Homo sapiens: one gene and its partners. The protein of the gene in region 3 interacts with the protein of the main gene of each other region in a pairwise test. Each region holds a gene or a part of one and is shown on either strand. Other genes may lie near its edges.

What was found.
Region 1: the proteins of GRB14 (region 3) and STK26 interact in a two-hybrid assay, tested with the Homo sapiens proteins (one large-scale study listed by BioGRID and IntAct).
Region 2: the proteins of GRB14 (region 3) and HCK interact in a two-hybrid assay, tested with the Homo sapiens proteins (one large-scale study listed by BioGRID and IntAct).

The regions. Positions count from the first base shown.
Region 1 is NC_000023.11:132,026,145-132,029,801, reverse strand, and holds part of STK26 (serine/threonine-protein kinase 26), read right to left. Parts: intron 1-3,657. UniProt on the Homo sapiens protein: Serine/threonine-protein kinase that acts as a mediator of cell growth. Modulates apoptosis. In association with STK24 negatively regulates Golgi reorientation in polarized cell migration upon RHO activation.
Region 2 is NC_000020.11:32,097,193-32,099,906, reverse strand, and holds part of HCK (tyrosine-protein kinase HCK), read right to left. Parts: intron 904-2,714; coding exon 772-903; intron 1-771. UniProt on the Homo sapiens protein: Non-receptor tyrosine-protein kinase found in hematopoietic cells that transmits signals from cell surface receptors and plays an important role in the regulation of innate immune responses, including neutrophil, monocyte, macrophage and mast cell functions, phagocytosis, cell survival and proliferation, cell adhesion and migration.
Region 3 is NC_000002.12:164,509,979-164,513,635, forward strand, and holds part of GRB14 (growth factor receptor-bound protein 14), read right to left. Parts: intron 1-3,657. UniProt on the Homo sapiens protein: Adapter protein which modulates coupling of cell surface receptor kinases with specific signaling pathways. Binds to, and suppresses signals from, the activated insulin receptor (INSR). Potent inhibitor of insulin-stimulated MAPK3 phosphorylation.

The DNA of each region.
Region 1 (3,657 bases), on a different chromosome or scaffold from region 3:
AAATAGAAGAGATTTCTATAGCCTGGGACATTCAGAGAGAGTTCATGAAGAAGCTAAGATGGAGGACCTTGAAAATCAGGTAGAATTTGGCCAATCACTGGTTATTGAACTGTGACTGGCATGGTAGAATTAAAGGGATTTCTTGTTGGGATGTAGTGGGAACTAAGTATAGATCTACAGAGAGGAGCCATATAACAGAAAGTATGGAAAGCTGAGCAGAGGGCTTTGTGTCTCATTGGGGTGGTGTGGGGTGGTGATTGGGTTTCAAAAGAAAAATGTGGGTTATCAAGCAGGAGAGAGATGAGATAATGGCAGTGTTTTCATGTGATTAGCCAAGCATTGTTTTGCAGGATGAACTGCCCCCCATACATCATAACACCTTTTACAAAGGAGCTCCAACTCCACAGATGATGGTTAATTCATCCTAATAACCTCTCATTGAGGCAAAGGAAATGCAGCTTTTATTATTCCCCATTTTGTAGATGATTTGCTCAAGGTCACTGAATATGAAAAGCAGAATAAAAAATACAATATCACAATGTTCAATTGTTCCTAAGTACCAGCTAAATTATATTCTCTCATTTGCTGTGACTCAAGCAAGAGAAGTACATGATGACGGACCTTTGTACTCAAGTGCCATTTCTAAACTCTGATTACTGTTGAAGGCACATGTCCTATCATACCCAATTCCTGTTTATTCTCCCTACAGTCCCTACTCCCCTAGTGTCAAAAGTTCTAACTAACCCCGCCTTCTCTCAGCTAACAGTCTTTGATTATTTTGTTCCAGCTGGTCTTCTGCCATTATCATTAGCATATTCAACACCTCTGCATTAACTACTCAATAACAAGGACAATAATTCGGGTTCACCAATGCAAAGCAATGCTTTCAACCTCAAATTGCAAATCTGATTATCCCCTTAGGGAGGTGTAAGGGAGGTAAGAACTCCACATACTGGACTCTGGTACCAACCTGAATTCTTTCTCCAATGTAGGTTTCCGGATGACTGTTAAGTAAAGAATCCCCCCATCCCCCACCCCAGTTAACTCTCTCTCTAACTTGACACACGTTCTCATCCTTTCATACATCTTAAAGCCACCCTTACTTTTCTTACACCCTTACTTTTCTTACAACCCTTACTTTTCTTACAACCTTACTTTTCCTGTCTCATGAGGGCCCTCACTTCCACATATTCTTTCTGGCATTATGAACCTCTCCCTCCTTGATGTCTCTAGTCCTTCATTTTCAAGTGAAGTGCCCGGCATAGAGTAGATGCTCAGTAAATATCTGATGAATGACCAAAGCTTCAGTTCTACATTTTCAACTACTTATTGGACATATGTACTTTGTCATCCCATTGTTACCACAAAATTCACAAGTCTAGAACAGAAATCCTTAACTTCCTACCAGATCTGGCTCTTCCCCACTACATTCCAATTTCTTTCAGATGTATCATAAGTCTCCCAGTTCCCTCCTATTAAACACCACAGTCTTTAACTTTTCCTTCTGAAACTAGCTAATTATTAAGCCTGGTAATTAATTTTTTCTTCATAGTACTAAACATATGTCCATGGAACCTGTCCATGGAAGGCCCATTGCATCTGTATAACTATGATTGACCCATTGAAATAGCCTCTGTAGCCAGGCGCAGTAGCTCACGCCTGTAATCCTAGCACTTTGGAAGGCCAATGTGGATGGATTGCTTGAGTCCAGGAGTTGGAAACCAGCCTGGACAACCACTAAACATTGTCTCCAAAAAAAAAAAAAAAAAACCATAAAAATTAGCCAGGCATGGTGGCGTGCACCTGTAGTTCTAGCTGCTCTGGAGGCTGAGATGGGTGGATTGCTTGAACCCAGGAAGTGGCGGCTGCAGTCAGCTGTGATCGCGCCACTGCACTACAGTCTGGGTGACAGAGTGAGACCGTGTCTCAAAAAAAAAAAATTAAAAAAGAAGAAATAGCCTCTGTAGATCAAACTGCCTTCCCCTCTCAATCCTCCAGTTGATTCATTCATCCAATTTTGAGATTTCTCTTTCGATATATAACTTGGTACATTGAGTCTCCCTTACTCAGAAATGTTTAATGGCTAGTTCAAAGGCCAAAATCCTTCCCTGGCATTTAAGGACAATCATGATCTGTACTCAATCCAGTTTTCCGACCTTATCATGTATCATTTTTCTAGAGGAATTCTCTATGACAGCCCAAATGACTTTATCCTGTTCTCAAAGATTGTGTGTGTGTGTGCATGCACTCACAAATGCAGTGCACCTTTCCTTATCTATATTGTATACATATGCTCCTTGACTTAAAATGTGGTTACGTCCCAATAAACCTATCATAAGTTGAAAATATTGTAACTTGAAAAGGCATTTAATACAGTACACCTAACCTACCGAACATCATAGCTTAGCCTACCTTAAACGTGTTCACAACATTTACAGTAGCCTACAGTTAAGCAAAATCATCTAATGCAAAGCCTATTTATAACAAAGTGTTGACTAGCTCATGTTATTTACTGAATACTGTATGGAAAGCGAAAAACAGAATGGTTGTGTGAGTACCATTGTAAAGTCAAAAAATCCTAGTCTGTCTACCTCTGCTGGGGATTTTTCCTTGCTTGGAAATGCCCTGCCCAGTGTGCATCCTAACAAGACTTTAGGGTCAGCTTACTTTCTGGAAGCCTTCAACACTTCCAGTGAGAAACTTCTATTATACTTACAGTGAGTTCACAGATTTTGCATTATTTGATATTTCATGTGCTAGTTTTAACAACTCAACAAGATTTTAAGATCTTTAAGGGTGGAACATGTAATATACGTCAGTATGCTTCCCAGAACCCAGTGATTATGTTCACCAATGTCGGGCAGTGTTTCCCACCACTTAGATAAAAGTCTTCAATAAAGTGATCATTAATCGTTAAACTTCATTTCTACTTCTCATCTCAAATGACAACTAGATTTAAACTGTACCACCTTGGTCATATTTAAAGATACATGAAGGCTAATTTTAAAGTTCTTTAGCAGAAGCTTTAAAAGTTCTTTAACAAGAGGCACAGCATAAAGCATAACATTTAGTACTCTAACTCAACATTTAACTTTATTCTTCCACCTACATCTTACGAAAGATTTAACAATCAACAATATTCTAAATGAAACTTGTCCTCAAAAATACTATTGTAGGCTCTAAGGGGAAATATCTTAAACTTAAGTATGATTTATAACTGAAAACTTCAAAGAAAACAGGGTTTGAATCATTAAAGAGTAAATATTTGAGTGGAAAGAAACAGGTTTATTGGTTTTTTTTTAAGTTGTACTTTAAATATTTTCAAGAGTTCAGCTACTGGTATGGAAAATTCCTCTAGTTACACACTAAAGAAGTAAGCACAAATTAAGTACAAAAAACTTCATACCCTCAACATTTGGTGTAACGTGGCAAAAAATGTTCGTTACCACAATATTAAGAAATATCAACAATATGAGTTTGAATAACTAATTCATAAGGAAGAGTTTGAACTGGACGAAATCCTGGGTTTTCTTTCTTCACTCCAAGTTTCTTTTCTATTTTAAACTAGTGGCAACAGCAATTTCTTTGTTTGAAAGTCAGGAATGCTGGAAATCTTAAGTGATAGAACAGGTAGCTGGGCTTCTACTTCACGTCTCT
Region 2 (2,714 bases), on a different chromosome or scaffold from region 3:
AAAAGGTGGAGAAAGGACAAGATCTGATTTAAAGTTTAGAATTATCCTTCTGGCTGCAAGTGGAGAATAGGCTGTAGGACGAGGAGGGAGAAAGCAGTAAGACTGATGAGGATGCCGCTGCACCATCTATGGGAGATGACGCTGGCCTGGATGCAGTGGAGACTGTGGGGTTCAAAGTGGTGAGACTTGGGATATGTTTTGGAGTCGAGTGGCCAAAACCCTGTGACTGCTCAGATGTCATAGGGGTGAGGCCAGGCACAGTGGCTCACGCCTGTAATCCCAGCACTTTGGGAGGCCGAGGCAGGCGCATCACCTAAGGTCAGCAGTTCGAGACCAGCCTGGCCAACATGGTGAAACCCCGTCTCTACTAAAAATACAAAAATTAGCCAGGCATGGTGGTGGATGCTTGTAATCCCAGTTACTCAGGAGGCTGAGGCAGGAGAATCGCTTGAACCTGGGAGGCGGAGGTTGCAGTGAGCCGAGATCACGTCACTGCACTCCAGCCTGGGTGACAGAGGGAGACTCCGTCTCAAAAAAAAAAAAAAAAAAAAAAAAAGTCATAGGAGTGAGAGAGAAGGAAGGGCCAAGGAAGCCCCCAGATTTCAGGCTTAAGACATTAGATGGATGGAGGTGCCTTTAACTAAGACAGGAAAGGTGAGGGAAGGTTGGGGGTGAGGATCAAGAACTCAGTTTGAATGGACATGTTGTTGAGATGAGCCCATTGCCAGACTGGGCCCTGGTAGCAGCCCTGAGCTGATGCCCCTTCCCTACCTGGGTAAGGGATCCGGCCGTAGGTGACGATCTCCATCAGCAGGATACCAAAGGACCAGACGTCTGACTTGATGGTGAAGGAGCCAAAGTTGATGGCTTCAGGAGCTGTCCACTTGATGGGGAACTTGGCCCCTGCAGGGTTGAACAGAGCAGAGTCGGGGAAGGCTGGGGAGTAGTGAGGGTTGGCTCTGCTAAGGTGGGGGAACAGGCAAGGGCAAGAGCTGCCAACATCTGCCCCTGCAGACCTGCAATTTCCCTGATACGTGGCCTCCCTGTGGAAGCAAGGGACATCCATCCTGAGGACAGATGGCTAAACAAGGAGGAGTGGGCTTAGGGGCCTGGGGTATGGTGTGGAAGTTCACTCTAGAATCCTCCTCGTTGATTCAGCTGATACCCCAGTTAACTGCAACTCCGAAGAGTGGAATCCCAGAGGTCACAGGTCTTTGGGGACAGAAGGACTTCAGGGGGCCTTGAGTCCAGGTTGCAGCTGATGCCTCAGTCCTCTCATCCTGGGCGATGGGAAAAGGGAGGATTCTGGCTCTCAGCCCATGAGGTTCCCACCAGTCACTATGTGTCTCTCCCTTTACCCGCCCTTCCTCCCACCTAGTCTGACATGGGTTTAGTTAGCCTTTTCATTTTTTTTTTCTTTTAGAGACAGAGTGCCCAGGCTGGAGCGCAGTGGCACAATCATAGTTCACTGAAGCCTCGAACTCCTGACCTCAAGCTATCCTCCTGCCTCAGCCTCTCAAGCCCCTGGGGTTACAGGTGTGCCCCATTATGCCAAGCTAATTAAAAAAATTTTTTTGGCCAGGTATGGTGGCTTGTGCCTGTAATCCCAGCACTTTGGGAGACCAAGGAGGAGGATCACCTGAGGTCAGGAATTCGAGACCAGCCTGGCCAACTCCATCTCTACTAAAAATACAAAATTAGCTGGGCATGGTGGCAGGTGCCTGTAGTTCCAGCTACAGGCTGAGACAGGAGAATCACTTGAACCCAGGGGATGGAGGTTGCAGTGAACCGAGATCACACCACTGCACTCCAGCCTGGATGATAGAGTCAGACTCCGTCTCAAAAATAAAATAAAATAAAATAAAATAAAATATAAAAAAATAGAAAAATTTGTAGAGACAGTGTTTTATTATGTTACCCAGCCTGTTCTCAAAACTCCTGGGCTCAAGTGATCCTCCCATCTTGGCCTCCTAAAGCACTGGGATTATAGGTGTGAGCCACCGCACCTGGCATAGTTATCCTTTTTTAAAAAGTGTTTAGTTTAATTATATCATGGTTGGTGAACATGGTCTATAGAATATATGTTCTTTGGAATTTGTTGAGACCTGCTTTATGACTGAGTACATGGTCAAGTTTTGAAAATGTTCTATGTGTGTGTTTGTGTGTGTGAGAGTGTGTGTGTGTGTATATGTTTTCTCCCTTCCTCCTTTGGATCTACAGACTTTTCTTGATTTCCTGCTTATCTTCTTCTGGTTTAGAAATTATACATTCTACTTTTATTCCTTTAGTCATTACATTTATTTATTTATTTATTTATTTATGTTTTGAGACAGGGTCTCGCTCTGTTTGCCCAGGCTGGAGTGCAGTGGTGTCATCTCAGCTCACTGCAAGTTCCGCCTCCCGGCTTTCACGCCATTCTCCTGCCTCAGTCTCCCAAGTAGCTGGGACTACAGGTGCCCGCCACCACGCCTGGCTAATTTTTTGTATTTTTAGTAGAGATGGGGTTTCACCGTGTTAGCCAGGATGGTCTCGATCTCCTGACCTCGTGATCCTCCCACCTCAGCCTCCCAAAGTGCTGGAATTACAGGCATGAGCCAACGTGCCCGGCCCTATTTATTTACTTTTTTGAGACAAAGTCTTGCTCTGTTACACAGGCTGGAGTGCAGTGACATGATCTTGGCTCACTGCAGCCTCAACCTCCTGGGCTCAAGCGA
Region 3 (3,657 bases):
CTGTAGTTTCTAACACCATTGGAGAATAAGACAGGAAAGAAAATTGCTTTAAAAAGACCCAGAATAGGACCCTCGGAAAAAGGTAGGAGGAAAGAGAAAGGTAAGCTTATTGCCCTGGCTTTAAAAATCTTATTCCTGGATAAAAATTAATTTGCTGGTAAAAATGTTTGATTTCTAGTAAGATGGAATAAAACCATTCCTGTCCACTGATGCTGTAGAAGTCAATATAGTTCAGTTATTCAAACAAGAGTAAAAGGTAGCTTGAGAAACACTGGAAGGCAATAAGAGGTATGATGAGTTTTTTTCTCTTGATTTTTGTTCCACCACTGCTAAGGCTTATGGCACTATAAGGCTATGAAGTTGAACGGGCATGGTTAGCAAAATCTAAGTATGTGTACATTTGTACATTTCCCCATGTGTACGGACATGGGGAGGTGGAGAGAAGCGTACTTAGAGATTTCTCTGTAAATATATTCATGACCACATCTTTAAGATTTGCAGCAGTAGTTAACTAAATTTAGAACTAAAACCAATCAAGACCTCCTCAGAGAAAAGGATAGGAAATGGTTTCTTTGCAGGTAGAAATGCCATATGTGACATTAGGAGGGGCAGAGCAAGATGTCTGAACAGAAGGCTCTACCTATCCTCCCCCAAGCAGGAACACCAAATTTAACATTTACACCAAAAAAAAGCACCTTTCTAAGAACCAAAATCAGATGAGCACTCACAGTACCTGGTTTTAGAAGGGAGCCCACTACCATAAAGGGTGAGTCTCAGTCCTGGTGCATTCACCACAAGATGACTGGAGAGCCCTTAGGCCTTAAGTGAACATCAGCAGTCCCTGCAGTACTCCCTGGGGACTTCATATCACTGAAAGAGGCACTGAAGGAGGTAGGAAAGACAGTCTTACATTGTCAGTACCTCCCCTCGCCTGTTCCTTAGCAGGAGAAAGAATCTGTGTACTTGGGAGAGGGAGAGCACAGTAACTATGAGACTTTGCATTGAACTCAGTGCTGCCCTGTCACAGTGGAAAGCAAAACCGAACTGAACTCAGCTGACACCTACCCATGGAGGGAGGATTTAGACCAGCCCTAACCAGAGGGGAACCGCCCATCCCAGCAGTTGGAACTCGAGTTCTGGCGAGCCTCCCAACTGCGGACTAAACTGCTCTGAGCCCTAAATAGACATGAAAGGCAGTCTAGGCTGCAAGGACTGCAACTCCTAAGCAAGTCCTAGTGATGAGCTGGGATTGGAAGCCATGCACTTGGAGGGCACACAAGCTGGTGAGCAACAGCTGGGGTGGCTACGGGAGTCCTTGCACTACCCTTCCCACAAGCCCAGGCAGCACAGCTCGTGGCTCCAAAAAGAGATCCCTTCCTTCCACTTGAGGAGAGGAGAGGGAAGAGTAAAGAGGATTCTGTCTTACATCTTGGATACCAGCTTAGCCACAGTAGGACAGGGCACCAGAGTTGTGAGGCCCCTATTCAGAAAGTAGCTCCCAGATGACATTGTTAGACACACCCTGAGCCAGAAGGGAACCCACTGCCTTGAAGGGAAAAACCTAGTCCTGGCAGGATCCATCACCTGCTGACTAAGAGATCTTGGGCCCTGAATAACCAGCAGTGATATCCAGGCAGTAATCCATGGGACTTGGATGAGATCCTAAGATAGATCCTAAGACATGCTGGCTTCAGGTGAAACCTAGCACATTTGCAGTTGTGGTGACTATGGTGAGAGATTCCTTCTGCTTGAGAAAAACAGAGGGAAAAGTAAAGGAGACTTTGTCCTGTATGTTCAATGTATGTTCGATGCTAGCTCGGCCACAGATGGATAGAGCACCAGGATGGTTCTGAGGGGTCCCCAGTTCTGGGCCTCAGCTCTTGGATGACATTTCTGGACATGCTCTGAGTCAGAGGGGAGTCCACTACCATGAAGGGCGAGTCCCAGACCTGGTGGCATTCACCACAAGATGACTGAAGAGCCCTTGGGCCTTAGATGAACATCAGCAGTTGCTAGCAGTACTCCCTGGGGACTTGTAGTAATAGTGGCCAGAGGTGAGGCTCCTCTGCCAGTGAAAAGTGGGGGGAAGAGTGGGAAGGCCTGCGTCTCATGGTTTGAGTGCCTGCTAAGCCACAGTAGAATGGAACAACAGGTAGATTTCCAAGGTTTTTTGTTTATTTGTTTGTTTGTTTGTTTTTGTTTTTTGAGACAGAGTTTCACTCTTGTTGCCCAGGCTGGAGGGCAATGGCGTGATCTCGGCTCACTGCAACCTCTGCCTCCTAGGTTCAAGTGATTCTCCTGCCTTAGCCTCCTGAGTAGCTGGTATTACAGGCTTGTGCCACCACGCCTGGCTAATTTTTGTATTTTTAGTAGAGAAGGGGATTCACCATGTTGGCCAGGCTGGTCTCTAACTCCTGACCTCAGGTAATCCACCCACCTTGGCCTCCCAAAGTACTGCGATTACAGGTGTGAGCCACCACACCTGGCCGATTTCCAGGGTTTTTGGCTATAGTCCCTGGCTCCCAGATGGCATCTCTAGACCAACCCAGGGACTGGGGGAACTTGCTGCCCTGAGGGAAGGACACAAGCCTGGCAGGCTTCACTACGTGCTGACTGTAGAGACCCAGGGCCTTGAGCAAACATAGATGGTAGCCAGGTAGTGGTTCATGAAGCATTATACCACAAGGAAATACATGCACACACATAAGACCCACACACAAGAACAGCAACAAAAGAAAACTGTGTATGAGGGAAAGAAGGAAGCTATACAAGAGCAGTTGGGGGAAAATATGGGAAAAAGTCAGGTATAACTATTTTGCAGCTCCATATCTCCTATCAAGACCATTACCCAAACATCTGGTCTCCGTCGTTAGCTGTTTTGAGCATTGCCATTTGTTTGCTTCATCCTCAATAAAACATATCCAGAACTAAGATCACTATTTGTCTTCTAAGAGAGTTACCTTCTAGTAAATATGCTATTCCTGTTTATTTTTATTTTCTATTTCTTAATTTTCTTTTATCTTTAAGAACATTTTTAACTGCTTCCTCTTCTTTGATATCAATCAGCCACACAAATCTGGCCTTTTGCCATTTAATCTTGTGGCCCCTCTCTCTCTACTTCTCTCTCTTTCTCTTTCCTTCCCACTCCTCCCTCTCTGCCTCCTTTGCCTTCTTCCCTTCAGTCTCTTTTTCTCTCTTTCACTCTCTGTCTCCTTGATCTTTTAAGCTCCCTGTGACCAAACTAATCTCAAGATACTCTTTTGGTAATTTCACTCCCTTGTTCAAACACTTCAATGGCTTTCTGTAGTGGATTGAATAGTAGCCCCCCAAAAAATATGCTCATGCCCTAATACCAGGAAATTATAAATGTAACCTTAATTCAGAAAAAGGGTCACTGAAGATATAATTAAGTTAAGGATCTTGAGATGAGATTATCTAGGTGGGCCCAAAATCCAATGACAAGTGTTGTTATAAGAGACATACAGAGAGAAAGGGAGAAGGCCCTGTGAATACAAAGGCAGAGACAAGCCATGGGACATCTGAAGTCATAACTAGCCAAGACAGAAAATCCTAAGACAAATGCAAAAGATCACATAACAAGAATAGAAAAGAAGTAGTCAAATAAATAATGGATGTACATTTCTAGTATGAAAAAAA